Homo sapiens: one gene and its partners. The protein of the gene in region 1 interacts with the protein of each later gene in a pairwise test. Each region holds a gene or a part of one and is shown in the gene's direction. Other genes may lie near its edges.

Region 1 (4,107 bases):
CTGGAGTGCAGTGGCATGATCATAGCTCACTGCAGCCTCAACCTTCTAGGCACAAGTGATCCTCCAGCCTCAGCCTCCCAAGTATCTGCAACTACAGGCATGTACCCCCACGCCTGGCTAATTTATTTTTTGTAGTAGAGACAGGGTCTCACCATGTTGCTCAGACTGGTCTCAAACTCCTGGCCTTAAGCAGTCCTCCTGCCTCAGCCTCCCAAAGTGCTTGGATTACGGGCATGAGCCACTGTCCTGGCCTAGTTCTTAATTCTAAAAAATACTGTTGCTCATTTAATTTTACAGAGTATTGGAGGCAGGATGGATTTCTTGCATACATTGTTTCTGTATTTTATCCCATGAACTATCAGGGTAATTTGATTCTTTTCTCCTTATTCTAGGTTTGTGAAGTTTTCTATGCCCAGTGTTCCTGACTTCGAAACGCTATTCTCACAGGTTCAGCTCTTCATCAGCACTTGTAATGGGGAGCACATTCGATATGCAACAGACACTTGTAAGCTAAATAACATTTTATTCTCCATTGAAAATATTTTGCCCTTGTGGTTATATTTATATTTTGAATATTTTGTTATTGTATCTAGTTGCTGGGCTTTGCCATCAGCTAACAAATGCACTTGTGGAAAGAAAACAGGTAAGAAATACTATTCAAGTATTCCTAGTTTTGTTATAATATGTAACTAGCTTACACAATGAATTACTTTATCAAGATTCCAGTTAGTACTGAGCATCCACCACCTAGATATCTGTGGTCACTTGAGAGCACTCACAGCCATTGCTGTAAGCTCAGGCAGTCCCCGCATCCCCTGAATGAGGTGGAGGCACGGGGTGGTTTGGCACCTCAGGGAGGCTGCTGCTGGAACTACCAAGTAGTTGGAATTACCAAGCCAGTACCCTTTATGTTGTAATATGCTGGGTTTTGTCTGTTACATTTTTTCTTTTAACTTTTAATTAGGACATTATTTTAGCCTTACAAAAAGCTTCAAAAATAATATAAAAAATTCTCATACATTTTACCTAGATTTTCCAAATGTTAACATTTTACCGCACTTATTCTTTTTTTTTTCTCTTCCTCTTTTATTCTGAGCCATTGTAGAGTAAGTTGCACATATGCTATTGCTGTTCTTTATCCCTAAATACTTCAGTGGGTAAAGCCTAAAAATTAGGACATTCTGTTACATAGTATAGTGTAATGGTCAGCATCCAGAAATGAACTCTTACTGTTTTTTTTTTTGGAGACAGAGTCTCGCTCTGATGCCTAGGCTGGAGTGCAGTGGCGCCATCTCTGGTCACTGCAACCTCCACCTCCCAGGTTCAAGCAATTCTTCTGCCTCAGCCTCCTGAGTAGCTGGGGACTACAGGTGCATGCTGCCACGCCCAGCTAATTTTTTGTATTTTAGTAGAGACGGGGTTTCACCATGTTGCCAGGCTGGTCTCGAACTCCTGAGCTCAGGCAATCCTCCCGCCTTGGCCTCCCAAAGTGCCAGGATTACAGGCGTGAGCCACCACGCCCGGCCCAGAAATGAACGTTAATATAATGCATCAACAAATTGACAGACCCCATTTAGATTTTCCCCCAGTGAAAAGGACTGTCTTTTGCTATAAAAGGACATTAGCTGTTTGGACAGTGTACTATATATTATATAGCAAAAGAAAACCGTGGACCATGGATTGCATTAGACTGCTTTGTTTCTTTAGTGTCCCTTAATCTGAACAGTTATTTCATTCTTTATCTTTTATAATACATAATTTATAATGTGGATTTTTAAAAAATTTATTTAGTTATTTATTTTTTTGAAATGGAGTCTCATTCTGTTGCCTAGGCTGGAGTGCAGTGGTGTGATCTCAGCTCACTGCAACCTCCACCTTCCAGCTTCAGGCGATTCTCGTGCCTCAGCCTCCTGAGTAGCTGGGACTACAGGCGCATGTCACCTTTCCCAGCTGATTTTTGTTTTGTTTTGTTTTTTGAGACAGAGTCTCGCTCTGTCACCCAGGCTGGAGTGCAATGGCGCAATCTCGGCTCACTGCAACTTCCGCCTCCTGGGTTCAAGCAGTTCTTCTGCCTCAGCCTCCCAAGTAGCTGGGATTACAGGTGCCTGACACCATGCCCGGCTAATTTTTGTATTTTTAGTAGAGACAGGGTTTCACCATGTTTGCCAGGCTGGTGTCAAACTCCTGACCACAGGCGATCCGCCTGCCTCGGCCTCCCAGTGATTTTTGTATTTTTAATAGAGGTGAGGTTTTGCCATGTTGGCCAGGCTAGCCTCTAGAACTCCTGACCTCTGGTGATCCGCCTGCTTCAGCCTCCCAAAGGGCTGAGATTACAGGTGTGAGCCACTTCACCCAGCCAGGTGTTTCTTTTTAATTTGAAAGTAAATTTAAGATTAGTGGTTTGAAAGAGGCTGAAAATAGAACCAGTTGTTATTTTGTAGTACTAAGTAACCATGTTTGAAAGAGATGGTTAAGAAAAATCATGAGTTTTTGAAAAAGCTGTAAGTTATTGAGCTATTTTTAGTCTCTTCACATATATATATATATATTTTTGTTGTTGTTGTTGTTGTTGTTGTTTTTTTGAGATGGGGTCTTGCTCTGTTGCCCAGGCTGGAGTGCAGTGGCGCGATCTCAGCTCACTGCAACCTCCGCCTCCCGGGTTCAAGCGATTCTCCTGCCTCAGCCTCCTGAGTAGCTGGGACCACAGGCACATCCCACCATGCCCGGCTAATTTTTGTATTTTTAGTAGACATGGGGTTTTGCCATGTTGGCCAGGATAATCTTGATCTCCTGACCTCATGATCCACCCATCTTGGCCTCCCAAAATGCTGGGATTACAGGTGTGAGCCACCGTGCCCAGCAATTTTGGAAGAGACTATATTTTAGTCTGCCAAAAACTGATTATGCCTTACTTGACACTTGGTCTTCTTATTTATAATCAGGGCAGGAAACAGTCCTTTTGAAATCTATGGTGTTAGTTTTGGTAGTAATTTACTACCAGGTAAGGGGTAGACTGCCCTATGGGAAAATGCCAACACCCTTAGCCACAAGTAATTTTCCTAAGCATAGGCTGTTGTCTCTTGTATAATAAGTGATTTGGAAAGTTTTCATTTGTTTAGATGTTAATATAATAAACTGTTGAGAAAGTAATACTGTTTTTGATTATTGATCTTCATTGTAAAAATAAAAGCTTTTTATGATTTAAAAAATGGTGCTGAGTTATCTAAAAATTCCAAGAAACAGCTTAAGAAAAGTTTTCTGACTTAAATGGGACAGAAATTTCCTGAAAGAGTATGGAAACCTCATATTGCTATTTAAAGGAACCTATCAATTAGTGTTATTTTTTATTTATAAGTGACAACATAAGATCCAATGTGCTGCCATCTTTGAGAACTTATCTGAAAGAGATGTCATTTCTGACAGCCCCTGCGAGGAATTGGCATCCTTAAGCAAGCCATAGACAAGATGCAGATGAATACAAACCAGCTGACCTCAATACATGCTGATCTCTGCCAGGTAAGCAACCAAAGTGTGTGATTCACACCAAGTCAGAGGTGTAGGTTGTTTATGGGCTTGCTCAACATTGGGTTTGATAAACACAGGCAAGTTGGCGATATTGTGATGTGTTATAGAAGTTGGAATATGTAGGTACATCTATTACATTCAGGCGGGTGCTGGATGCAAACTGTAGGATGGGGCTCAACTAGTAAGCTTGTCGAACAGATAGGGTAATTAATAGTTGTAACTTTTTTTTTTTTTTTTTTTGAGACAGTCTCACTTTGTCGCCCATGCTGGAGTGCAGTGGCACAATCTCAGCTCACTGCAACCTCTGCCTCCCGGGTTCAAGCAATTCTCCTGCCTCAGCCTCTCGCGTAGCTGAGACTACAAGCACCCACCACCAAGCCTAGCTAATTTTTGTATTTTTAGTAGAACAGGGTTTCACCATGTTGGCCAGGCTGGCGTTGAACTCCTGACCTCATGATCCACCCGCCTCAGCCTCCCAAAGTGCTAGGATTACAGGTGTGAGCCACCACACCCGGCCCTAGTTGTAACTTTTTTTTTTTTTTTTTTTTGAGACGGAGTCTTGCTCTGTCGCCCAGGCTGGCG
Region 2 (4,107 bases), on another chromosome or scaffold:
ATGTTATAGTAAATGAAAATGCTTCCCCCCTAAATCCTCTGAGCAGGCAAATGGTAATAATAATGGAAGCTACTAGTTATCAGATGTCTGCTATGCCTTGGTTTCCTCATCTATAAGACATAGAGAATATTAGAATATGCTTCATTGCCTTCTTGTGAGGAGACAGTGAGAGAAGTCACATTGGATGATTGGCAGAGTAACTAATAAACATCAGTGATTGTGGTTATGTGCCCACCACTGTTCTGGTGCTTTACATAAGTCATATCACTGGATCGGTTCTTACCGCTTTGCCATACGGTGGCATTGTTCCCATTTTTCAAATGAGGAAAATGAAGACTCTTAGGATTTAAGTCCCTTGCCAAGGTCACACAGCTAGTAAGTGGCAGAGTATGATTTCATTTCCAAGGAGTTGATGATCAGTTTCTGAGGAGATGGAAGCCATTTTATGATGGACAAATAGAGGACGGTGTAAGACAAAATGGAAAGTTGCGAATTATGGGCTGCGTTTGGGGCCAGGAAATCCGGGTGCAGGCCTGGACTTTGCCCCCATTTTTCTATGATAACAGAGAAGTAACTGGACATCTCTGGGCTTCATCTCGAATGTGAGTGTTGAGCTAGATTTTGTTCCCTTATGTGCCTTCTGGCTCTGCAATTTTGCAATTCTCCATGTTTGTCATTCCATACAGGGCATCTTCATGACCTGACTTCATGAGCTTAAACTCATTTTTCATATAAAACCCTATTCCAGCATTTTCTCAGAACTGTCCCTAAATCTCCCTATCCTATAAGCAGAAGTAATTGCTTCTGTATTGCATGATCACTGCCCTATACCAGCTGTTTACCTGTCTGTGTCCTCTATAGACTATAAGCTCCCTGAGGATAGGGATTCATTCATTTCTTTATTCTCATACGTGCTACCTGGAACATTCACACCAGCCAGAAATCTTTGTTTAATTAAATATTTTAATCAAGAGAAAGTCCTTTTTGAGTAATATGTGAGTGGACAGCCTCAGGCGGTGCTGGACCTAACGTGGAGACCTAGAGAAAAGTTTGCCTCCATGTTTTTTGTTTTATTAGAGGTCTGGGAGAAACAATAACAGAATGGCTAGATTAAAAAAAAAAAGACATTAGATGACTTTGCAGCTCCCTAGAATGTACCTGTAAAATCTAAAATTTGATCAGTGATTAAGCATCAGTGAAAATTTAAACCCTTCCCATATTGAACAACCCCACTTAATTTAATGTCATTTTATTTTATGAGATAGTTAATAAACAGGTACTGTATTTGATCTTGTGAGTGTAGTCCTCTATATTTAGCTTTTTCAGCTTTAATGGAACTATAATTTTAATCATGATTATTACTTTACATTTTAATTATAATTTGGTGTGGCTTAAGTATACATTTCTGAGAGTGATTGTGTAATGAAAACAGGAATTAGCTTTTCATTAACAAAATAATGGGAGAGTTCCTACTGCATTCTAGTCTGTGTTCAAAATCTATGGGCTGGCCTAAAAATAGAAAGAGGAGTTTAACATTTTGGTTAAAAACATGCTTCTAAATTGGCTGTGTTCACAACCCAGTCTCTTGCTCCATCTTGCTTTATCTTCTTCTCTTTCTTTTCAAAAAAATTAATAAACTTTTAAAAGAGACTTTGTGTCTGAGATTTCAAAAGGCTTTTTCAATTGTTTTTATTTTTATTTAGATAATTAGCACCATGGAGCCTCAGGTGTCAAATGGTCCGACATCCAATACAAGCAATGGACCCTCCAGCAACAACAGAAACTGTCCTTCTCCCATGCAAACAGGGGCAACCACAGATGACAGCAAAACCAACCTCATCGTCAACTATTTACCCCAGAATATGACCCAAGAAGAATTCAGGAGTCTCTTCGGGAGCATTGGTGAAATAGAATCCTGCAAACTTGTGAGAGACAAAATTACAGGTATGCACAGGATTTGAAGCTATGTTGTTCCATTAGATGTGCAGATCTTAGCAGAAATGCACATGTGTGATGGTGCACCTGAATGTCTATATCATGTACCCTGCATGCAAGATGGCATGGATACACAGTCATAAACTCACACTACATACACCACATAAGACCTTATTGTAGATTGGTACTGCTGGGGAGCAGATGAAGATTTTGGTACATCTTCATCTTCATGTAAAATGATCCTTTGATTTTGTCTCCTTTTATTCTTAATCAGCCATTCCTTCCCTTTGTTCTATAGTTTCCAGTCCCACAACTCTGCCCTCCCTATACTATACACTAGTTTTTGCTCATGTATTCTCCTCCTCTCAATATTTGCTTCATGTGTGCCCAGTGTTCTTCCATGTGCCTGAAACAAGTGTTTTAAAGGGGGCCACTGTGGATGTGTGGACAGTTGACACAACTGCCCTTGTCCCTGGGGAGAAACAGGCCCTAAGGATAGCAGATTATTCTGGAATACAACTACTCTGCAGTAGGAGGGAAATGCTTAATGAAGATCTGCATTTGAGGTATTTTGTTTTATTTTATCTGTCTGTTCGTTTTGAAGATACTCTTTGAGATGTGAGGGCATTTTTACTTGAAAGTGAATCAACACCCTATACAACTTCAATACATGAGATTTTTAGGTTCTGATTTTCTCCTAATTGACAACTGTTCATTGAGAACCAAATGTTTGCCAGACACTGACACTATAATTCTTTGGGGGAAAGTTTCCCTATAATCTTATTGGCAGTGAGAATATTTTCTTGGAATATATTAGGCTACATAATGATGGCAGTGAAGCTGCTACTCTCTGATACTCCACTCCTGAAATCATTCATATCCAACTTTGAATACTTGTCAGTTTTGAGTATTGACTTTTGTTTCCCTTTCCCTAGACAGTTTAATTAATCAGCAACTGTCCTAGAGTTTTTTTTTTTTTAAAAAGGAAGCTGCATCATTAAAATAGGGATATACATCATCTTTATTTTAAATCAGAGAATACATTCTATATGTGTGTGTGTAGATATATACATTCTTCTGTTCTCATAATTCACATGTAAATCTGTTCCCCTTATAAATTAAGTAGTTTGCAAAATCATAAAACTTAAATACCACTGCTACTTTCCAAAATACAAGTCACCTAACACTCCAGACATAATTTTCTTATTTGAAAAACTGGAAGATAATGCTTGTCTCAAAGGGCTTATTGTGAGGATTAAATGAGAGACTAGATATATTGCATCTAGCACAATGTCTACTGCACAGTGGTCCCTCAGTAAATAAATCTATTATTGTAAGTACAGCTAGTATGCTTCAAGGAAAGTGGCCAGAACAGAAAAAAAAGTATCTATCAAATTCTCCAAATAGGGCCAGGCTTTGATTATCTTGTACCAGAGCACTGGAACATCTATCCTTAAACAGAATTTCCCATACGTTCAGAAAGCCAATATTTAGATTCCTGAATAATCTTTATATAATAGGATGATAATTCAAACCAAATTAAAACCAGTTAACCATATGATTCTTCCTCCTACTCCTATATAGAAAATGTATTTTTAGTATAGCCTTACCTTCAAAATACAGACTCTGCCAGCTATATTAGTGAATATTATTAATCACCTTTTCAGAATTCCTTCAGAACTGTAGCGAGATTTTTGAGAAGTACTGATTCATGGTGTTGTTCCTTGTTTTCTAAAGACACATGTTTAAACAAGCAGATTCCTTTACTGAAAGAATGCTAATTTGGTAGTTCACCGAGTGGATTTGAATAGGAGTGACAGCTTCGAAGACAGCCTTTAATTTGGTATACAAAACCAAAATTGTCAACTTTGGTTTGTTTAGCACCCTCTCCAGCACAAGCAGAGACATACAGTAGCATCTGAGCTTAAAGAAGAAGCTTATGGGGTTGAAAGCAGAAATACAATTCAGGCATAAATTTATAATTATGCATTCTTCTTAAATTCAGGCCCAAAAAATTTTTATTTGTAGAGAGCTTATGGGAATGAGGCAGGGAAATATAGAGAGAGACCAGAGATATTTGCCCTCATTTGACAGCAGTGTTTAATAGAAGTAAAACTTGTGGTTGTAAAGAGTGCTTATTAAATTCTTCATTTACACTACCTAATTAATTCT
Region 3 (4,679 bases), on another chromosome or scaffold:
GCCCGGAAGGAAGGAGGGGCCTGGAAAGGAGACGAAGGCGGTAGGGACGTGAGCAGGGCGTTGGCCCTGGCCCATCTCACAGGACGCACAAAGGGGGGAGGGGGCTGCTGCCCTGCAATACTGAGGAGCTGGCCAGCCAGGGAGCCGCCCTCCTTACCCCCAGCCAGATATCCAGGCAGGAACCTGAAACCTGCTTCCCCAGATGCACTCTCTTGTCCTCAGGTCCCATCTGAGGCAGACCTGTCTCACAGGACAGCGCTGGAGTCCCCAGCAGCAGCAGCAGCCCCAGCCCTATGGTTCCTGGCAAACCCAGCAGACCTCAGCAACCCGGCTCCTGCAGACCATCCGAGCTGCCTCTGTCCACTCCTGGGCAGGTTGTGCTTGCATTCTGGAAGCTGTTTGACATACAAAGGCCAGATATCAGCCTTCTCGCTAACTCTGGAGTAGGGGAGGGTGTGGTGGGATGTGTGATTGTGTGTGTATGTGTGTGTATGTAGTGTGTGTGCGCATAGATATACAAAGCTGTGTGTATGCATCTGTTTGCGTGCGCAGGTTTGTGGACCTGTTCTGGGGCCTTCTCTCTTTCAGACTGCTGGGGATGGGCACTTTCTCTTTCCCCATCTCTTCCCCATCCAGCCCCACCCATCCCTGGTACCTGCAACTCATCAATACTGGAAACCAGCTCCTGCCAGTCCATCCATCTCTCAGCCTTGGCAGCCGCTGTTGCCCCTCAGCCCCCTCCCCTTCCTACCTCAGGAATCACTCTGGTTCCTGTAAAGCCCATGACTGAGCAGCAATTGGTGTGGGGTTGGGGGGAGGGAGAATCCAGTAAACCAAGACAGAATACAAAAGGCCCACTTAGCCCAGCCCGTGGCATGGGGCAGACCCTCCCGAGTGGGATCCAGAGCTGGGTCCAGCCACCCTCAGCCCCCTATGATGTACCCACCTCATTGGGGCTTGTTGCGGGGTAGGTCTAGGTTTGGGGGCTGTGTCTTTAAGGCTGAAACATCAGCAGACAACCTCTGCTGGGCCGTCTTCAGGGGAGGGGGAGGGGGGCTGGTCAGCCCATTAGCAGCAGAGCTGGCGCCAGGCACCAGCCCTTCACAGGGCCCTGGGGATTAGGGAGAGTAGCTCTTCCCCAGCCCGATCTGCCTCTGCGCCCCTGTCTCCTATTCCTCTCTGGGTGTGGTGAAGGAGGGGTAGCTGACAGCAGGTGAAAATAGAGCCTGGCCTTCAGGGGGCAAGTCAAGGCACTAGCTATGGGGCCTAAGCCAGGTCAACTCTCCCTCCAGCTGGCCTCCTCCCTACTCCTGTGCCAGAAGCCTGCCCTTTAACTTCAGGTCCTTCTACCTCGCAATTTTCAGGGACTCTAGTTCAAGTCAGGCCTTCCTACCCTAGGTTCTAGCTTTGGGTGCTTGTTGGGAGGAAGTGACCCCCACCCCAGCGGCAACAGGGGGCAATCAAGTGGGTAGAGGCCTGCAACCAGGGAAGGGAGGGGAAGGCGCTCCTGCTGTTCCGCAGGGGTGGGGCATCCCCCTCCCCATACAACCCCCCTCCAGCGGGCCATCAGGCCAGTGGGAGGAGCTGCCCGTGCCCCCCCTGAGACCGCAGGGCTATAAAGCCGCCTCGCAGCGGTCTGCGGCTCCTTCCCAGCCCCCGGCCTAGCTCTGCGAACGGTGACTGCCCATCCTTGGCCGCAATGAGCCACCACCCGTCGGGCCTCCGGGCCGGCTTCAGCTCCACCTCATACCGCCGTACCTTCGGTCCACCGCCCTCACTATCCCCCGGGGCCTTCTCCTACTCGTCCAGCTCCCGCTTCTCCAGCAGCCGCCTGCTGGGCTCCGCGTCCCCGAGCTCCTCGGTGCGCCTGGGCAGCTTCCGTAGCCCCCGAGCGGGAGCGGGCGCCCTCCTGCGCCTGCCCTCGGAGCGCCTCGACTTCTCCATGGCCGAGGCCCTCAACCAGGAGTTCCTGGCCACGCGCAGCAACGAGAAGCAGGAGCTGCAGGAGCTCAACGACCGCTTCGCCAACTTCATCGAGAAGGTACGCTTTCTGGAGCAGCAGAACGCGGCCCTGCGCGGGGAGCTGAGCCAAGCCCGGGGCCAGGAGCCGGCGCGCGCCGACCAGCTGTGCCAGCAGGAGCTGCGCGAGCTGCGGCGAGAGCTGGAGCTGTTGGGCCGCGAGCGTGACCGGGTGCAGGTGGAGCGCGACGGGCTGGCGGAGGACCTGGCGGCGCTCAAGCAGAGGTCAGGGGGCAGGGCTGGGCCGCTGCCGTCGAGGCGAGGTCGAAGCGGCCGTCGAGGCGGCTGCTCTTGCCTCCCCTCGCTTCCCCTCTCCATCAGCAGCCCAAGGGTGTGGCTCCCCTTACCAACCCAGGTGTGTGCGGGCAGCATCCCTGCCCACGGGCTCCAAGTGCCCCCCGCTACCCCTTTGCTCTGAGTGTTTGGGGAGGTGGGAGAAGTGGGTATCTGTGCCTCCCCTGAGTAATGAGGAAACCCCCTTTTCAGCTCCCAGTCCGTTAGAGACAATGCGGGGCAATTCCATTAGACAGCCTCAGCCCTCCATTTAGAGTCCTGGGCAGCAGAACAGCCTCTAACCGGATCCTGGGGGGCGTGCGGTCTGGGGTGCGAGCTGGGCGGCGACCCCGCAGTTCAGCCTCTGCACGCTCTTCCCGTCAGGTTGGAGGAGGAGACGCGCAAGCGGGAGGACGCGGAGCACAACCTCGTGCTCTTCCGCAAGGTGAGTCCGAGCCCCTCTCCGAGTTCAGCCTCCCCACCGCTACCCCCGATCTCAGTATCCAGAGGTGGCATCGGTGGGCGCGGGGAGAAGGGGGTAACCCAGATGCCTCCTGAGGCAGACAGGGAAGGCCTGGTCCTTCCTTGGTCTGCGCAGCCCCTAACTTATCTTGAACCTCCACTGCCACCCCTCGAAGGACGTGGACGATGCCACTCTGTCCCGCCTGGAACTAGAGCGCAAGATTGAGTCTCTGATGGATGAGATTGAGTTCCTCAAGAAGCTGCACGAGGAGGTAAGTGGGCCCGGTATCAGGGGCGGTTTCTGAGGTTGTGGGGTGGTCTCGCTGGAGCTGGCGGGTGGAGCGGAGGCATCGCCCTGGGGATCAGGACGATGCTGGGTAGACGCAGCCCCTCCACCCTAGTCTACAGGTGGTTAGACTCCCACCCTTGCGCCACCTGGCGGCGGGCAGCGGGGCTGTACCTCCGAAACCTGGCCTCTGGTCTCGCGCCCGCGGGGGCGCAGGGCTGTACGCCCTGCCCTCCCTGGCGCCCACTTCTGTTCGTTCAAGCGTTTCTTCTCTTTTCTGTGCACGAACTGCGTGGCCCGCGTGGAATTTGCGCCGCTGTCCATCCTCTGCCTGCTCCCGGCCGTAGGAGCTGCGAGACCTGCAGGTGAGTGTGGAGAGCCAGCAGGTGCAGCAGGTGGAGGTGGAAGCCACGGTGAAGCCCGAGCTGACGGCAGCGCTGAGGGACATCCGCGCGCAGTACGAGAGCATCGCCGCGAAGAACCTGCAGGAGGCGGAGGAGTGGTACAAGTCCAAGGTGCAAGAGCCGGGAGGGCCTGCGAGGCGGGACGCTGGGGTGGTGTCGCGCGTCCCAGCCGACTAAAGCCTGGGTTACCCCCACTTCTCAGTACGCGGACCTGTCCGACGCTGCCAACCGGAACCACGAGGCCCTGCGCCAGGCCAAGCAGGAGATGAACGAGTCCCGACGCCAGATCCAGAGTCTAACGTGCGAGGTGGACGGGCTGCGCGGCACGGTGAGTACGAAGCTGCGCGCTCGGGCCCGGGGAGCGGACGATGAAATGTTCTGCAACTGGCCCCTTCCACTCTCCTACCCCAGAACGAGGCGCTGCTCAGGCAGTTGAGAGAGCTGGAGGAGCAGTTCGCCCTGGAGGCGGGGGGCTACCAGGCGGGCGCTGCGCGGCTCGAGGAGGAGCTGCGACAGCTAAAAGAGGAGATGGCGCGGCACCTGAGGGAGTACCAGGAGCTCCTCAACGTCAAGATGGCCCTGGACATCGAGATCGCCACCTACCGCAAGCTGCTGGAGGGCGAGGAGAGCCGGTGAGGGTGGAGCTGCTGGGGCGGGGCAGGGCGGGGTCGGGACTGGGCCGGGCAGGGCGGGGCCTGGGCAGGGGCGCTGACAACTTGCTTCGCCTCTAGGATCTCCGTGCCCGTCCATTCTTTTGCCTCCTTAAATATAAAGACGACTGGTGAGTCTGGCTTACAGCCTGTACCTCTCCTTGTCCACTTCTGCCCTCCTCGGGCTCTTGCTCTGGCTCACCTCAGGGATCTCTTCTCCCCACGGAACTTCTGGGTCCTGGCCTGTACCCACCCCTACTCCTCAAACCCGCCCCTCCCCTGCCCTCAGGGATAGCAGTGGGAGCCTAAGAGGAGAGATTCCCACGCCTTCCCCCTTGAACCCTTTATCCTGCTTTCTTCAGTGCCTGAGGTGGAGCCTCCCCAGGACAGCCACAGCCGGAAGACGGTTCTGATCAAGACCATTGAGACCCGGAATGGGGAGGTGAGGCAGGTCCCCTAATGCCAGGACCCCACCATTTCCCATATTATTTCTGAGCCCCAGCCTGGCTGTCGCTAATCTTACTTAGGGTGGGTAATTCTTGGGGAGAGACAGAGAAGGAGACAGAGAACGTGGATAGATAACCA
Region 4 (4,107 bases), on another chromosome or scaffold:
ACTGCAGGAAGGAATCCAAATGTAGCAAACTAAGTATAGAAATTAAGGAGCAATGCATGACTCTCCAGCCATGGGAGACAAATATTTACAGGCAAACTAAAAGTCAGCTTAATAATCACATAGAAACCCTATTAGCCAGAAAGGAAAAAAAAAAAAAGAAAATGTGACTTCTTAAAATTAAGATGGAAAAAATATTAATAAAGCAAACTAGACCAAGGCTCAACATGAGCCACCCGTGGTGGACTGACAGGAACACATCACTCCACACTACTTCTAAGAGTAAAAATTGTAGAAATTACCCTGAGCAAAGGTGTAATATCTCTTCAGAGTTGTCCACATGTGAGATGCTTACAGCCTAGTGTCAGTAAAATACGGGGTTTTTTTCCATAGCCTGTAAAACATGCTTCGACCATGCCCTTTTAGCATGTAATATCAGCCTGGTAAAGCTCAGCGTATAATTGAATCAAGACTGTTTCTGTGAGCTGTATGAAGGTGTGAATCTCACTTACAACCTCTCTTACTGATTTATTTTCCTCCACCTTGTGTCCTGTCTCCCCATTTGTAAAATGGCAGAAGTGATTCCTGTCCATGCCAACTTTCCCTGCTGAGAACAAGGGAGTGAAGTTAAGTAAGAAGGGCAAGATCTCCAGGGAAGAGTGCAACAGCAAATAGGGGAGGAGACCTGCGGGTGCTGAATGGGGTTTCAGGATCGGTCCTGTATTTCAGGTCCCAAAGTCTTCATCCAATGAGGAGGTAATGTTCCTCACTGTCCAAGTGAAAGGACCAACCCAAGAATTTAAGAAGCGGACCACAGTGATGGTTAAGAACGAGGACAGTCTGGTCTTTGTCCAGACAGACAAATCAATCTACAAACCAGGGCAGACAGGTATGAAGAAGCCTACAGACAGGACAACTTCAAAAAGGAAAGATCTTCTTCCCCTGGATGTTCCCCAGGCAAAGTTCCTATAATCTTGGTTCCTTAATAGCTTGTCTTACCAGCCTACAGGCCTACTTTGGGTTTGGGGGCTCATGAAAAATATTTCTGTTTCAGTGAAATTTCGTGTTGTCTCCATGGATGAAAACTTTCACCCCCTGAATGAGTTGGTGAGTTTTCTATTATCTACATAAAATGATTGTCTGTATAAACAGGCTGGGAACCTGTTTTTTGTGCTGAGGGAAGACCAGGGAGAGGAAGAATCTGGTATCATTAACAGTAACTTCTGGCATTACAACAGCACAAGATCCTAATCTAAAACATCATTCCAGGTAAAGAAAGTAGGTAATTCTTTCTGTCTTGGTGCTGGTACTCAGTCAGTTGTCACACAATTAAATTTACTTTTCGGATGGTTCTTAATTAGGACAATTAGAAAGATACATTCAATAGCAGACACAGAAAAATCCTCAAAGAACCTAAGCTCAAAAAACATTTTAAAGATTTAGATTTTTTCTATACACATCTACCAAAATCTTCACTATAAAGGAAAGTCAGGGTAATTAATTTGTTCCTCAAGACTAACTCTTGGTATCTGTGATAAGAAACAGTTCTTTCTATTGTAATGCAGACATCAACCCAAAGTCTTCATTTTTCTCTCCCAAATTAACTTCTTCACATTTTCTTATCTCAAAAAGAGGCAACTCTTCTCTTCTAGCTCCAAAGACAAAAGATTATGGCCTAGTTCTTGTTTCTCTTTCTCTCATACCCACATCCACTTCACTGGAAAATCATGTTGGCTTAAAATATATTCAGACTATTTCTTATCATCTGAACTACTGCTGCAAGCTAGTCCTAGTCAATGTCATCTCTAAATAAGATCATTACAATAACCTTCAAAGTGGTCTCCCAGCTTCTACTTTCACTCCTCTGTCTAAAATGAGGCACCACACCCATCACTCTGTCAGCCTAACTTGGCTTTGTTTTTCTATTTGCACTTACCACCATTCTATACGTATTGATTTTTAAAAATCTGCCTATTTCTATTATAACATAAGCTCCATTAAAACATGGTTTATTGTTCTTTTGTGCGTGGTTATATTCTCAATACCTAGAATGATACACAGCGCATGAGAAGGTACTTAATAAAGATTAGTTTTTAAAAATGAATAAACATTCATAGTAGCTTCTTATCAATGTTTATTCATTTTTAAAAGTAATATTTATTAAACTAAATTTATTAATGAAATATGTCCATTCCTCCTCATTCTTAGAACTACGTAAGAATTCTATGACCCATCTTAATGATTACATCTGAACATATTTACTTATAGTTACATAAGTGTTTATTTCTCAACCTGTAAAATTGCATAGCAAAGGATTGATCTTCACTAGGATGCTATAAGCACTTAAGACATGTTAATCCATTTTTAGTAAATGGCACTTTACATGTATATTTGTTGCTGAAGGCCTAGTAAGTTCTTAACATTATTTATTAATTGCTTAAAATAGATTAATGAAAAGTTCTATAAAATTTAATCTGGAATATTTCTGTATTTCACTATAGAGGGAATTATTCTATATGAAACTAATTTAGATTTTTTAAACTTTTTATTGTTTTTAATTTTTGTGGAAACATAGCAGGTATATATATTTATGGGTTACATGAGATATTTTGATACAGGCATGCAGTGCATGATAATGATTATGGATGATAATCATTATCATTATCCATATCATTATCCAATCATGGATAATGATTATTATCATGCATTGCATGCCTGTATCAATAAATGGAGTACCCATCCCCTCAAACATTTATTCTTTGTGTTACGAACAAATCCAATTATACTTTTAGTTATTTTTAAATGTACAATTAAATTATTTTTTACTATACTCACCCTGTTATGCTAGCAAATACTAGCTGCTTTGCTTATAAATGAGATTTAAGAATATTTGAAAATAATTATAAACTTCTTTTTTCTTTTGTCTTTCAGATTCCACTAGTATACATTCAGGTAAGCAACATGAAACATTCCATATTAAAAGGAAAGCAATACATATAGGGAAAATGTTCTTATTTCAGAGGTTTTTACAATATCTCAGAAACTTGTCATTAAAGGAGAAGCCTTCAAACTCCCATAGAGCTAGATGGCTATAACTCATCTCCTCTACTCACCCTTTACTACTACCCCATTTGACCTTTTTGTAGATAACTTAGGGTTTCCATAGATATCTTTTATTAGCTCCAATGCTCCAGGTGCTTTTGTAAGTTATAATTAATTTACTCATATAGGATCCCAAAGGAAATCGCATCGCACAATGGCAGAGTTTCCAGTTAGAGGGTGGCCTCAAGCAATTTTCTTTTCCCCTCTCATCAGAGCCCTTCCAGGGCTCCTACAAGGTGGTGGTACAGAAGAAATCAGGTGGAAGGACAGAGCACCCTTTCACCGTGGAGGAATTTGGTATGGATCATGAAAAGTCATCAAGCATTATTTTTCTTCATATTTAAACTCTTAGGTCCTGGAATTTAAGTTCATTTGGAGTCTTTCCATTTCCCATGGGTGACATTGGGCTTGGAGTAGAATTAATTACACCTAAGTCCAATGAGGACATCAGTGATCTGTGAATAGGACTTCACATAGCTTCGTTATTTTCTGTAGCAATATTTAATACCAACCCCCAAAATTAAAACATTCTTGTTTTAATGGAGTTTTCCATAATTAATTAAGCACACAGTGATCTCTCATAGTCCCTCAACTGAAATCTTCATTTGAGAGGAGGATAGATAAGAATAGATTGGAGAGCAGAGCTACCTTTTCAGAGCCCTAAAATATTATTAGGGAACTGTTACAGGGAACCTGAAAATAGGAATTCCCCCAAAGTTGAAAACCAATCACCAACCTTCTTTATCACCAATCAACAGTTCTTCCCAAGTTTGAAGTACAAGTAACAGTGCCAAAGATAATCACCATCTTGGAAGAAGAGATGAATGTATCAGTGTGTGGCCTGTGAGTTCATTTTTTAAAAATCTTTTGTGGGGGATTATTTAAAAGAGACTCACCATTTGGGATATTTTAACTACTCTCTCCGGGAGCAGTGGCAACACAAAAATTTTAAGTGCTTTGACAGCATCCTCATCTGTAGAATGTTATTCTCCTGTTGCTTTTCTATTT
Region 5 (4,107 bases), on another chromosome or scaffold:
TCCCAAAGTGCTGGGATTACAGGCGTGAGCCACTGTGCTCAGCTTATTTTTTGAGACAGAGTCTCACTCTGTCACCCAGGCTGGAGTCCAGTGGTGTGATCTCAGCTCACTGGAGTCTTGACTTCCTAGGCTCAAGTGATCCTCCAGCCTCAGCTTCCCATGTAGGTGGAACCACAGGCTTGCGCCACCATGCCTGGCTAATTTTTTTTTTTTTTTTTTTTTTTTTTTTTGGTAGAGACTGGGTCTTCCTATGTTTCCCAGGCTGGTCTTGACTTCCTGGACTTAAGTCATCCTCCCGCCTCAGCCTCCCAAAGTGCTGGAATTATAGGCATGAGCTACATACCTGGCCTGCTGTTTTTTTTTTTTTTTTGAGATGGAGTCTCGCTCTGTTGCCCAGGCTGGAGTGCAGTGGCGCGATCTCGGCTCACTGCAAGCTCTGCCTCCCAGGTTCACACCATTCTCCTGCCTCAGCCTGCCGAGTAGCTGGGACTACAGGCACCTGCCACCACACTCGGCAAATTTTTTGTATTTTTAGTAGAAACGGGGTTTCACCATGTTAGCCAGGATGGTCTTATCTCCTGACCTCGTGATCCGCCTGCCTCGGCCTCCCAAAGTGCTGGGATTACAGGCGTGAGCCACCACGCCTGGCCAGTTCCCCCATTTTCTTCAGCTACATGATTTTCTTTGTAGAAGAAAGAGCCAGTGGTTGAGCAAGGAAGGATGCCGTGGGCAGCTCAGGGGGAGAGATGACCTGTTAGTTCCTCCCTTTCTCTGCATTGCCCAAGAGCAACAGCCAAATAGCGGTTCGGCCCTTATTTTGTACTGGGCACCGTGTGAAACAGCCTGCCTGCGGATTTCACTCAGTCTTCACCATACCTCGCAGGGTAGAGACTGAGACTCAGAGATGTGGCAGCTTGCCCAGGGCCATGCAGCCTGTTCGGTATCTCTGATTCTAAAACCTGAGCTTTTAAGTTTTAGCTCACTACTTCTCCAAATGTCATGAGACCTTTGACCTTGAACCTGGGGAGGTGGAAAGCCAGCCTGATGGAGGCTGACTCACTGGCTAAGACCTGTGAGTTGTGCAGGGCTGGCTGTTCAAGTCTTTGCGCTTCAGGTTCTGGAGATGACAAAACAGAAGGGCTCATTTGAAACAGACTTGCCAAGAAATTAATCCTACAGTTAGTGAACAGCATGGGGTACAGTATGTCAGTGTGTGCAAGTGGAATACTACTGAGGAAAGACAAGTATTTTGTAACATGTTGGATAGTTTCTTGCCTTGCCAAAAAACATGAGCACATGCAGTGGAAACTTTAGCCTAATGCTGAGGCAGATGAGCCCCGTGGCCTAGAATCCACGCTGTGGAGGTTACACGGTGCTTAGGAGTGCCAACCTGGGAGTCGGGCAGCCCTGGCCCACAGACTGACTGTGACCTCAGGCAGATGGCTGAACATTGATTCAGCACATGTATATGGAGCATCTGGTAAGTGCCAGGCATCATACCTAGGACGGGGGACACAGCAGTGAACAAACACAGAAATTCTTGCCCTTATCAATCCTACATCCTAGTGATAATAAAGAAAGAAAATGTATCAGATGATGGGGGATAGATATGTTGATGTGTGTGATGTGTTTGTGTGTATACATGCAGTACATATGCACACATCGCACATGTACACATGTGGACATATAGATATCTTTCCCCCCGGGGCCAGTAGGGGAAAAAAATCAAGAAAGGCTTTGGGGTTCAGGGTAAGGATGGGCTCTGCTTTAATAGAGTGGACAGGGAAGGCTCCCTGTGAGGGTGGCATTTGGGCTGACCCGGGGGAGTGAGCCATGTGGATGTCTGAGGGAAAAGCATTCCCCAGTGCGGACAGCACGTCCAGGGGCCCGAGGGGGGCCTGTGCTTGGGGTCCCTGTGACTGGTTGAGGATAAACAGAGGAGGGAAACGGGAGGTGATAGAAGAGGCGAGATTTGGGGTGGAGGTGCAGACCGTGGGAAGCCTGGCGGGCCATGGTGAACCTTGAGTCTTATTCCAAGTGGAAGAGAGAGGCCTGGAGGGTCCTGGGCAGGTGGTGCTGTGATCTGACGGGGCCTTCACAGGACCTTGCTGGCAACTGGATGGAGGACAGACCCACAGCCACAGGGGCAGGGAGCCCAGCGTGGAAGCGGTGGGGGTGGAGGGACACGGTTGGCTTCTGGGTGTGTTTTGAAGGTAGAACCTGTAAGACTTCCTGCAGAATTGTATATGGGAATGAGAGAAGAATCAAGGACCTGGCTTGAGCGATGGGAAGGGTGGCACTGCCATTGAAGGGAAGGGACAGCAGGAAGGACGGGCGAGCTCAGTGGGCAATGGCATCAGGGCATCAGAGCAGAGCCACGAAGCTCCAGGGAGGCCATCAGGCCAGGAGGGCAAACTTGGGAGTCCTCAGGAGATGACTGTGAAGTCTCAGGGCTGCCTGAGGTCACCTGTTCTGCCGTCACTCCTGGGTCTGCGTGGCTGGGTCCTTGTTGCTCGGGCTCTGCCCTGAGGTCCTGCCCAGCCTGCTCCACCTCCCGCTCTCCATGTCCGTTCTGCTGTGTGGCATTCGCCACTCCAAGCACCATCTGAGATTGTTTCCTGCCCTAGAGTGGTAAAGCCGTGAGGTCCGTCTGCCCTCAGCTGTGTCCCCAGGCCCAGGGCGTGCCTGGCACAGAGCAGGCCTCTGAGAACCAGCCTCCCACGTGAGTTCATGATAGCAAGACAGCCCCTCGTTCCCATTCAGTGGTTGGTTCTGTTCTTTCCCTGGCCATAGGCTCCACTCTGTCAGTCAGCCACACATTTATTGAGTACCAGTTGTGTGCAAAGCACTGTTGGGCATGAAAAGCATTAACCCAGTGAATGAGGAGGAGCTTGGGTTGGGGACGGAGCCCCAGAATTACATGGCAGACCAGAAGGGAATCAGCTCAGTAGAAGACACGCATGGGCTCGTGGGCGACGCAGTGTGTGCTGTGTCATCTGGGGCTGGGAGGAAGTGTCCTGGGTCAGGAGTTCCAGGAGCCCAGGAGGAGTGGACGGGTCAGTGCAGAGCCAGCCCGCATTCAGGGGAGAAAACACGGCCAAGGCCAGGCCTTCACGGGGAGCCCAGCGTGGGCTGCACATCTGCACTCTCCAGGCTAGTTTTGGTGCCCACATGCTCTGCAGGGTCTGGGCACTGTGGCAGCGGCAGCAGGCTTCCCTGTTGCTAGTCCAGCTGCTGAAACTCCAGGGAGAGTCAAAAAGTTCCCAAATACAGAGGCGTGGCTGGTAGTCCTTCCCGGGAATTCTTCTTGCTTCCCGCTTTCTGTGGAACTCTGCCTTCCCCACTCTGCCTCTCTGCTTGTTCCTGGGCCCCAGGACCTCTTTCCCATCTTCGATCTCTTAAGTCATACCTTGGGAGGCCTCCCCCAGCCCGCCGTGTAAAGAGGGCTGTCACAGCTTCTGCTGTCACAGAAGCATTACAATGTGCAGGTGCCTGTTAACATCTGCCTTCCCCACTGATCTGGAGCTCCACAAGGGAGAGGGCACACCCAGTAGGTATGTGTGGGATGGATAGGAGGGTGGATGACACCCAGTAGATGTGTATGGGATGGATAGGAGGGTGGATGACACCCAGTAGGTGTGTATGGGATGGATGGGAGGGTGGGTGACCCCTAGTAGATGTGGGGGGGGTGGGTGGGTGACCCCCAGTAGGTGTGTGTGGCATGGATAGGTGACCCCCAGTAGACGTTTGTGGGACGGATGGGAGGGTAGGTAAGTGACCCCCAGGAGGCGTCTATAGGGCAGGTGGGTGGATGTGGATGAACAGCACCTTGTTTCTTCTTCCCAGGTGGCTTCTGGCACAGCAGCTTAATTGACCGGAACCTCATTGATTATTTTGTTCCCTTCCTCCCCCTGGAATACAAACACCTAAAAATGTGTATCCGAGTGGAAATGCAGTCCCGAGGCTATGAAATTGATGAAGACATTGTAAGCAGAGTGGCTGAGGAGATGACATTTTTCCCCAAAGAGGAGAGAGTTTTCTCAGATAAAGGCTGCAAAACGGTGTTCACCAAGTTAGATTATTACTACGATGATTGACAGTCATGAT
Region 6 (4,067 bases), on another chromosome or scaffold:
CCAGAGCCTGAGGTAGCGAACCCTGGGGACCTGAGTGATCTCGTTTTGTGAGAGAGCCTGGCCCCTCCCCAGAGCCAGCTGCAGAATGGACCTGGCCAGAGAGGAAAGTAGAGATGAGTATGGTGCTGGCCTTTGCAGCCAGCAAGGCTGTGGGGTCTTTGCTGTTCCTGTCCCCCACTACCTTCTTGCCCCCCACTACCTTCTTTCTGGCTGAAACCAGGATAGAGACCCAATATTGGCTGTCCAGCCCCCAGCCCTGCTTCCCCTTTCAGGCCCCTCTGGGAACCACAGAAATCTGGGACCTAGTGTCTTGGCAACGTAATGAATGCATGCACAGCTCTGGTATCTGTTTTAAATTATCCATTAAAATAAGTACAGTTCTGGGGGAAAAAAATAAGTTGACTGGGTGCGGTAAGCAGTAGAAAGGGACTGAAGGGGGAAGGAACCCAGGCAGTGCTTGGGTCCAAAGGAAGGGGACAGGAGATGGAAGGGGCAGTGCCTGGCTCCTATTCTTGGCTTTCTTTAGGGGACTTCTTTAGGGGACTGTGGCTTGTTGCTTGGGTCTAAAAACGAATGCTTGGCTTTGAAGAGAGATAGATTGGGGCAAAAGAAAGAAAAAAAGGGACCCCCCAAACTCCTTGATCCCTGGCCCCAAACTGGGGGCATAAAGGAACTCAGGTTCCAGAACTTTGCTCCCCCCAGGGAACCCAGGCATTCCTTCTCCACCCCACTCCTGGCACACTGAGATGCAGCTCTGAATGGGCTGCCCACGTGTGGAGGGGGGTTGGGGTGACTCACTATTACTACTGGGAGGACAGGGGGAGCCAGTGGTGGAAGAAGGGTGAGTCACACTGATGGGCACCAGCCTCAGCCCTCCCCCCACTTTCCTGGCTCCCAGCCCTGCCTACCTGACCCTCTCCCTTGCTTTGCGCCCACTTCCCTCTCTTTCTCCCCGACCCTTTTGCCCACCCACTCTCCCTCCTTGGCTCTGCCCTCTAGCCCAGAAGGTCTGAGGCAATGGGGGCAAGCTTGGAGCCGACAGTGCTGAGCAGGCAGGAGCCAAGAGAGGGGAAGCTTGAGCCTCACGCAGTTAGGGGTGCGCTGGAGAGGGTGGGGCCCGACTCCGCCACACCCCAACGGTCCTTCCCCCTCCTCACCACTCCCGCCCCCACCCCCAATGGATCTGGGACTGCCCCTTTAAGAGTAGTGGCCCCTCCTCCCTTCAGAGGAGGACCTATTAGAGCCTTTGCCCCGGCGTCGGTGACTCAGTGTTCGCGGGAGCGCCGCACCTACACCAGCCAACCCAGATCCCGAGGTCCGACAGCGCCCGGCCCAGATCCCCACGCCTGCCAGGAGCAAGCCGAGAGCCAGCCGGCCGGCGCACTCCGACTCCGAGCAGTCTCTGTCCTTCGACCCGAGCCCCGCGCCCTTTCCGGGACCCCTGCCCCGCGGGCAGCGCTGCCAACCTGCCGGCCATGGAGACCCCGTCCCAGCGGCGCGCCACCCGCAGCGGGGCGCAGGCCAGCTCCACTCCGCTGTCGCCCACCCGCATCACCCGGCTGCAGGAGAAGGAGGACCTGCAGGAGCTCAATGATCGCTTGGCGGTCTACATCGACCGTGTGCGCTCGCTGGAAACGGAGAACGCAGGGCTGCGCCTTCGCATCACCGAGTCTGAAGAGGTGGTCAGCCGCGAGGTGTCCGGCATCAAGGCCGCCTACGAGGCCGAGCTCGGGGATGCCCGCAAGACCCTTGACTCAGTAGCCAAGGAGCGCGCCCGCCTGCAGCTGGAGCTGAGCAAAGTGCGTGAGGAGTTTAAGGAGCTGAAAGCGCGGTGAGTTCGCCCAGGTGGCTGCGTGCCTGGCGGGGAGTGGAGAGGGCGGCGGGCCGGCGCCCCTGGCCGGCCGCAGGAAGGGAGTGAGAGGGCCTGGAGGCCGATAACTTTGCCATAGTCTCCTCCCTCCCCGGAACTGCCCCCAGCGGGTGACTGGCAGTGTCAAGGGGAATTGTCAAGACAGGACAGAGAGGGAAGTGGTGGTCTCTGGGAGAGGGTCGGGGAGGATATAAGGAATGGTGGGGGTATCAGGGACAAGTTGGGGCTGGGGCCGGCCTGAATTCGGTCAGATTGGGATTTGCCAACTATTTGGAGCCGGGGGGAGGGGCTTGAGCAAAACAGAACTAGCCCTGCCAGCTCGAAGAACTCTGGGCACCCAGGACACATCGGAGTGGCAGAAAGGGTCCTGTTAGAACTTTGTTAGCGGGCTTGGCACTGTGCTAGCTTTGCCCAAGCTGGCTCTGAACACATGATGCCCACTAAGACATAACTCTCAAGTTGGCATCTGTCCAGCGTGTTGGAGCGAGGTCAGGAAGGCAGGGCAATCCCCCTTTTCCCTCCCAAGGGCTTGGCGGTGGCCCCCCCTCAGCATGACCTTGTCCTGGGTTCTAAGGGTTGGGAAGTTCTCCCTCACTCTGCCACTCTGCGTGTCTGGGACCTTCCTTGGGCTCTGACAGGCCCACCAAAAGAGCTCCGGGAGATGAGAGATCGGCTCCCCCGCAGCTCCCACAGCCCTTGGCCTGCTTGGCCCAGGAATGCAAGGGAGGGAGGGAGGCAGAGGGCAGAGGCTCCCAGCTCAGGAAGTTGTGTTATGCCCAGGTCTGGCCGCACTCCTCCCTTGGCCCTCTGCCTAGTGTCTTCGAGGGTTGGGGGCACTGTCCTTCCCTCCTTGGGGTGAGCCACTTTCATTTTCCCAGCGGGGCCAGGCAGTCTTTGCTCGGGCCCATCCTCTTAGCTGCTGACGTTTTGATCTTTGTCTTATTGAAGTGCTGGAATACAGTGACATTTTTGAAATCCAGCCGTTGGAAGATTCAGGCCACTCCCACTTTACCCACCCCTGCCCCACCCTACCCCACCCTACTCAACTGCACCTTCTTCTTTTCTAAAAAAGCCTTTGGGAGCTTGGAAGTATAGGCCCTCTCTTCCAGCCCCATCAAAATTTGTTTCCCTTCTTCCTGCCTTCCCTTTCTCTATGCAGACCCAGGCCAAGAGCACTAAGGGTGCTTGGAGATCCGTAAAGGGCTGTTGGCTTTGACTTCTTCTCTCTCTTTTATCATCTACTCCAAACTTCTGCTCTTCCTAGAACCCTTTGCTAGGTGTGGTTTTGTTGCCCAGGCTGGAGTGCAATGGCACAATCTCGGCTCACTGCAACCTCCGCCTCCCAGGTTCAAGTGATTCTCCTGCCTCAGCCTCCCGAATAGCTGAGATTACAGGCATGTGCCACCATGCCGGGCTAATTTTGTATTTCTAGTAGAGATGGGGTTTCTCCATGTTCGTCAGGCTAGTCTTGAACTCCCAACCTCAGGTGATCCACCCGCCTCAGCCTCCCAAAGTGCTAGGATTACAGGCATGAGCCACCACGCTGGGCCCATCACCCTTCTTTCTGAAGAGTCAATGGAAGTTGTGTGTAGGAAGACAGGCTTAACGGTTTTTTTTTGAGACAGGGTCTTACTCTGTCACCCAGACTGGAGTGAAGTGGTGCGATCTTGGCTCACCACAACCTCTGCCTCCCAGGCTCAAAAGATTCTCCTGCCTCAGCCTCCTGAGTAGCTGGGATTATAAGTGTGTGCCACCACACATGGCTATTTTTTTTTTTTTTTTTTTTTTTAATTTTTAGTAGAGATGGGGTTTCACCATGTTGGCTAGGCTGGTCTCAAACTCCTGACTTCAAATGATCCACCTGCCTCGGCCTCCCAAAGTGCTGGGATTACAGGTGTGAGCTACCATGCCCGGCCATCAACCTTTATTTTGTTTTTTTGAGACGGAGTCTTGCTTTGTTGCCCAGGCTGGAGTACAGTAGTGTGACCTCAGGTCACTGCAACCTCTGCCTCCCAGGTTCAAGCCATGCTCCTGCCTCAGCCTCCCAAGTAGCTGGGACTATAGGTGCCTGCCACCACGCCCGGCTACTTTTTATATTTTTAGTAGAGACGGGGTTTCACCATGTTGGCCAGGGTGATCTCGAACTCCTGACCTCAAGTGATCTGCCTGCCTCAGCCTCCCAAAGTGTTGGGATTAG
Region 7 (4,107 bases), on another chromosome or scaffold:
CAGGCGTGGTGGCTCACGCCTGTAATCCCAGCACTTTGGGAGGCCGCAGCAGGCCGATTACCTGAGGTCAGGAGTTTGAGACCAGCCTGACCAACATGGTGAAACCCCGTCTCAACTAAAAATACAAAAAATTAGCCAGGTGTAATGGCGGGCGCCTGTAATCCCAGCTACTTGGGAGGCTGAGGCAGGAGAATTGCTTGAACCTGGGAGGCAGAGGTTGCAGTGAGCTGAGATCGCACCATTGCACTCCAGCCTGGGCAACAAGAGCAAAACTCCATCTCAAAAAAGAAAAGAAAAAGAATGCTCAAGATGAGGAGAGGCTCTCCTGCCCCTACAGGCCTGGGACTGGAGTTGAGGGACATTTCCTGCACATTGTGCATCTGTTGAGCTCCTCTGGTCCTTCCCTATTGCCTAGGGTCATTTCTTCCTCTCCTTCTCCAGGAATATTTGCATTTAAGTGTTCCCGGGCTGAGGAAATCTTCAACCTCCTTCAGGATCTGATGCAGTGCAACAGCATCAATGTGATGGAAGAGCCTGTCATCATCACCCGCAATAGCCACCCCGCTGAGCTTGACCTCCCTCGAGCCCCCCAGCCACCCAATGGTGAGGAGACCCCAGTGTACACACACACACACACACACACACACACACACACGCCCAGGAAGCACAAATCTGAGGGACTAGTTAAGCTGGCTGGTTGGGAGAAGGCTGGGTGAGCCAACCTTCCAGGACAGTTGTCCATGATCAGAACCATTCTTGAGGATCGGTAAGTCCTGGGCTGGGCTAGGTGACTCAAACTGAGGTTGTTGAGTTCTGGGCCTTGTATTGACTGATGGTTGGGGAGCAGACAGGAAGACTTTGGGTTTCCGTAGAATTGGCAGTCTGGAGTTTTTTTGCTTTCTTCCTCTGTCTATTGGGTCATCCCCATATACCTTCCTTGCTGCTGGTGCAGGCATCTCTGGCCATGACCGTATTCTGGAGAGGGTCCTACAATTTCTGCTTATTCAGTCATTGAATTCAGATCAGGTACCTGTTTGGTATTCAGCGCTCCTTGGACTGGCCCATGGGGGACAGGAGAAATAGAAGCGCAGTCCCTTTTTTTGAGGAGCTTCCCTGGACCTTACTGGCAGACCTAGAATGAAGCAAAGGGACGGTCCAGTGACAGCAAGATGTGCTTTATGCGTTTCGGGTGAGGCTATAATGGAGACAGTGGTGAGGTGCTTCAAGCTGAGCTTGAGGGAAAGGGCAGGGTTTGAAGAGCAGAGGAAAGATGAAGGATAATGGGGGGCTGGTGGCTCAGTGGGGTTTAACCACTGTGACGCCCTGAGAACATCTGTCCTCCATTAGAGGAGTCCCAGGATGCCACACACACAGCTGCAAGTGGTTGTCAGGTGGCTTAAGTTCCCCTCTCCTGGGCTTGTCTCCCGTGTGCTCAGCTCTAGGCTACACTGTCTCCAGCTTTTCCAATGGCTGCCCTGGAGAGGGCCCACGATTCTCAGCTCCCCGGCGGCTCTCGACAAGCAGCCTGCGGCACCCCTCGCTTGGGGAAGAGTCCACCCATGCCCTCATTGCTCCTGATGAGCAGGTGAGCACGCAGCCGGCCAGCCCCTGCCCTGTTGGTCTGGGTGGGGACGAGGGATAGGAAATAAGGCCACCTCCTCCCAGTAAGGATCACGGGAAGGGGAAGAACATTGTAACGGTCCCTTCCTGTCCCCAAAAGGGAGCAGCTTCCTCAGAAGGGTTGGAGGACAAGGAAGAAGAAACTCCAGGTCTTTTTCTGTGTGCTTCTTTTCTCTCATCCTGTCCCTTCTGTTCTCTTTTCTCCCTGCCCTGGGACACTCCTGCCTCACTTGGACTCTTTCCCCAGTCCCACACCTATGTCAACACACCGGCCAGTGAAGATGACCACCGCAGGGGCCGCCACTGCCTGCAGCCCCTGCCTGAGGGTCAGGCACCCTTCCTCCCGCAGGCCCGGGGACCTGACCAACGGGACCCACAGGTGTTCTTGCAGCCAGGCCAGGTGAAGTTTGTGTTGGGCCCGACCCCTGCTCGGCGGCACATGGTGAAGTGCCAGGGCCTCTGTCCCAGCCTGCATGACCCCCCACACCACAATAATAACAATGAGGCCCCTTCTGAGTGTCCAGCCCAGCCCAAGTGCACCTACGAGAACGTCACCGGGGGGCTGTGGCGAGGGGCTGGCTGGAGACTGAGCCCAGAGGAGCCGGGCTGGAATGGCCTTGCCCACCGCCGGGCCGCCCTGCTGCACTATGAGAACCTGCCCCCACTGCCCCCTGTGTGGGAAAGCCAAGCCCAGCAGCTGGGAGGGGAGGCTGGGGATGATGGGGACTCGAGGGATGGGCTCACACCCTCTTCCAATGGCTTCCCTGATGGTGAGGAGGACGAGACCCCACTGCAGAAGCCCACCAGCACCCGGGCCGCCATCCGCAGCCACGGCAGCTTTCCTGTGCCACTGACCCGCCGCCGCGGCTCCCCAAGGGTCTTCAACTTTGATTTCCGCCGGCCGGGGCCCGAGCCCCCAAGGCAGCTTAACTACATCCAGGTGGAGCTAAAGGGCTGGGGTGGAGACCGCCCTAAGGGGCCCCAGAACCCCTCGAGCCCCCAAGCCCCCATGCCCACCACCCACCCTGCCCGAAGCTCAGACTCCTACGCCGTGATTGACCTCAAAAAGACCGTGGCCATGTCCAACCTGCAGAGAGCTCTGCCCCGAGACGATGGCACCGCCAGGAAAACCCGGCACAACAGCACCGACCTGCCTCTGTAGGGACTTCCCGGTCCTCACCACCCTCTGCCCCACCATGATCCAGCCTCTGCCTCACACTCCTGTCCTCTGAACCCACCCTCCCCAGGGTTCAGGGTTGCTTTGCAGAAGGCATGGAGGTGGGACCAGATGCTTCCCTGTGCTGGCTGGAGTCCCCAGAGATATCAGCCACCGAGTCTCCTGGTCTGTCTCCAGGCTGGGGAGAGAAGGGTGACCAGGCGAGGAGGGAGCCGAGACGTCAACTGTGAAGGGTTCCTGTGATTGCGTTTAGCGCCCTCCCGTTCTGTCCATTTGTCTTGTCTGCCGACTGTCCGTGTGTGTTTTTTTTGGTTGGAATTTTGAAACATTTTGTACCTGTTGATTTTATTTATCAGTTTATTTTTCTATTTATTGTTTTAAATGTAATTTAACATATTTATTATTAATATAATTATTTTTAAATTCTGGCCCAGTGGATATCATCTTCTTAGGGAATCTTTTCTGGTGTGGTCCTGGGTTGGACACAGGGCAGGCCTAATCGAGGTAAGGGCTTCACTCTGGGGAATTTGGGTCAGTTATGGTTTTTGTGACAAGTCCATGATTTTTTTTTTTTTTGAGACAGAGTTTCGCTCTTGTGGCCCAGGCTGGAGTGCAGTGGCGTGATTTCAGCTCACTGCAATCTCCACCTCCCGGGCTCAAGCAGTTCTCCCGCCTCAGCCTCCCAAGTAGCTAGAGTTACAGGTGCCTGCCACCGTGCCCAGCTAATTTTTGTATTTTTAGTAGAGATGGGGCTTCTCCATGTTGGCCAGCCTGGTCTCAAACTCCTGACCTCAGGTGATCCACCCACCTCAGCCTCCCAAAGTGCTGGGATTACAGGCGTGAGCCACCGCGCCCGGCCAGTCATTTATTTTTCTCCTCCAAGAAGCCCTGGTCATGAACCTACAGTTGCCAGGGATGGATGCTCTGTTGAAGGAAAGGGGTGGGATGGCTGGAGTCCTAGAAGCCAAAAGGGGAGCCTGTGAGGACTGCCCTAATGAGGTAGAGCCCAGCCCTCTGAGGCTGGTAACAGGTGAGGAGTGCAGCGGAGCGGGCACAGCTACAGAAGAGACACCTTCGCCTTCTTGGGGAGCCCTCACTGACGCCCCTGCCAATAGGCAGGCCCCAAAGGGCACTGCTGTCCTTTACCACCTTGGCCCAGAGATGGATCCTGGATCCTCCTTAGCTGCCCCCAGCATGGCTGAGTCAAGACCAAACCTTTAAACAGGACTTTACTAAAATCCTAGGATTATAGCAAAATGAAAAAATACAGTGTAATGTGTAACTAGATAATCTGGCTTGCTAAGTGTCTT

What was found.
Region 2: the proteins of COPS3 (region 1) and ELAVL4 interact in binary tests that used the Homo sapiens proteins (3 or more experiments, as listed by UniProt).
Region 3: the proteins of COPS3 (region 1) and PRPH interact in binary tests that used the Homo sapiens proteins (3 or more experiments, as listed by UniProt).
Region 4: the proteins of COPS3 (region 1) and A2M interact in binary tests that used the Homo sapiens proteins (3 or more experiments, as listed by UniProt).
Region 5: the proteins of COPS3 (region 1) and TOR1A interact in binary tests that used the Homo sapiens proteins (3 or more experiments, as listed by UniProt).
Region 6: the proteins of COPS3 (region 1) and LMNA interact in binary tests that used the Homo sapiens proteins (3 or more experiments, as listed by UniProt).
Region 7: the proteins of COPS3 (region 1) and FRS3 interact in binary tests that used the Homo sapiens proteins (3 or more experiments, as listed by UniProt).

What each region holds. Positions count from the first base shown.
Region 1 is NC_000017.11:17,267,294-17,271,400, reverse strand, and holds part of COPS3 (COP9 signalosome complex subunit 3), read left to right. Parts: intron 1-392; coding exon 393-505; intron 506-593; coding exon 594-643; intron 644-3,355; exon of another isoform or gene 3,356-3,423; coding exon 3,424-3,516; intron 3,517-4,107. UniProt on the Homo sapiens protein: Component of the COP9 signalosome complex (CSN), a complex involved in various cellular and developmental processes.
Region 2 is NC_000001.11:50,143,254-50,147,360, forward strand, and holds part of ELAVL4 (ELAV-like protein 4), read left to right. Parts: intron 1-1,703; coding exon 1,704-1,944; intron 1,945-4,107. UniProt on the Homo sapiens protein: RNA-binding protein that is involved in the post-transcriptional regulation of mRNAs. Plays a role in the regulation of mRNA stability, alternative splicing and translation.
Region 3 is NC_000012.12:49,293,502-49,298,180, forward strand, and holds the start of PRPH (peripherin), read left to right. Parts: upstream 1-1,645; 5' UTR 1,646-1,699; coding exon 1,700-2,244; exon of another isoform or gene 2,245-2,676; coding exon 2,677-2,737; exon of another isoform or gene 2,738-2,930; coding exon 2,931-3,026; exon of another isoform or gene 3,027-3,083; intron 3,084-3,214; exon of another isoform or gene 3,215-3,387; coding exon 3,388-3,555; exon of another isoform or gene 3,556-3,646; coding exon 3,647-3,772; exon of another isoform or gene 3,773-3,855; coding exon 3,856-4,076; exon of another isoform or gene 4,077-4,175; coding exon 4,176-4,225; intron 4,226-4,456; coding exon 4,457-4,536; intron 4,537-4,679. UniProt on the Homo sapiens protein: Class-III neuronal intermediate filament protein.
Region 4 is NC_000012.12:9,109,156-9,113,262, reverse strand, and holds part of A2M (alpha-2-macroglobulin isoform a precursor), read left to right. Parts: intron 1-573; exon of another isoform or gene 574-726; coding exon 727-886; intron 887-1,051; coding exon 1,052-1,104; intron 1,105-2,928; coding exon 2,929-2,949; intron 2,950-3,227; coding exon 3,228-3,396; intron 3,397-3,857; coding exon 3,858-3,942; intron 3,943-4,107. UniProt on the Homo sapiens protein: Is able to inhibit all four classes of proteinases by a unique 'trapping' mechanism. This protein has a peptide stretch, called the 'bait region' which contains specific cleavage sites for different proteinases.
Region 5 is NC_000009.12:129,813,962-129,818,068, reverse strand, and holds part of TOR1A (torsin-1A precursor), read left to right. Parts: intron 1-3,846; coding exon 3,847-4,097; 3' UTR 4,098-4,107. UniProt on the Homo sapiens protein: Protein with chaperone functions important for the control of protein folding, processing, stability and localization as well as for the reduction of misfolded protein aggregates.
Region 6 is NC_000001.11:156,113,444-156,117,510, forward strand, and holds the start of LMNA (lamin), read left to right. Parts: upstream 1-1,267; 5' UTR 1,268-1,475; coding exon 1,476-1,831; intron 1,832-4,067.
Region 7 is NC_000006.12:41,769,294-41,773,400, reverse strand, and holds the end of FRS3 (fibroblast growth factor receptor substrate 3), read left to right. Parts: intron 1-441; coding exon 442-603; intron 604-1,436; coding exon 1,437-1,585; intron 1,586-1,867; coding exon 1,868-2,782; 3' UTR 2,783-3,225; downstream 3,226-4,107. UniProt on the Homo sapiens protein: Adapter protein that links FGF and NGF receptors to downstream signaling pathways. Involved in the activation of MAP kinases. Down-regulates ERK2 signaling by interfering with the phosphorylation and nuclear translocation of ERK2.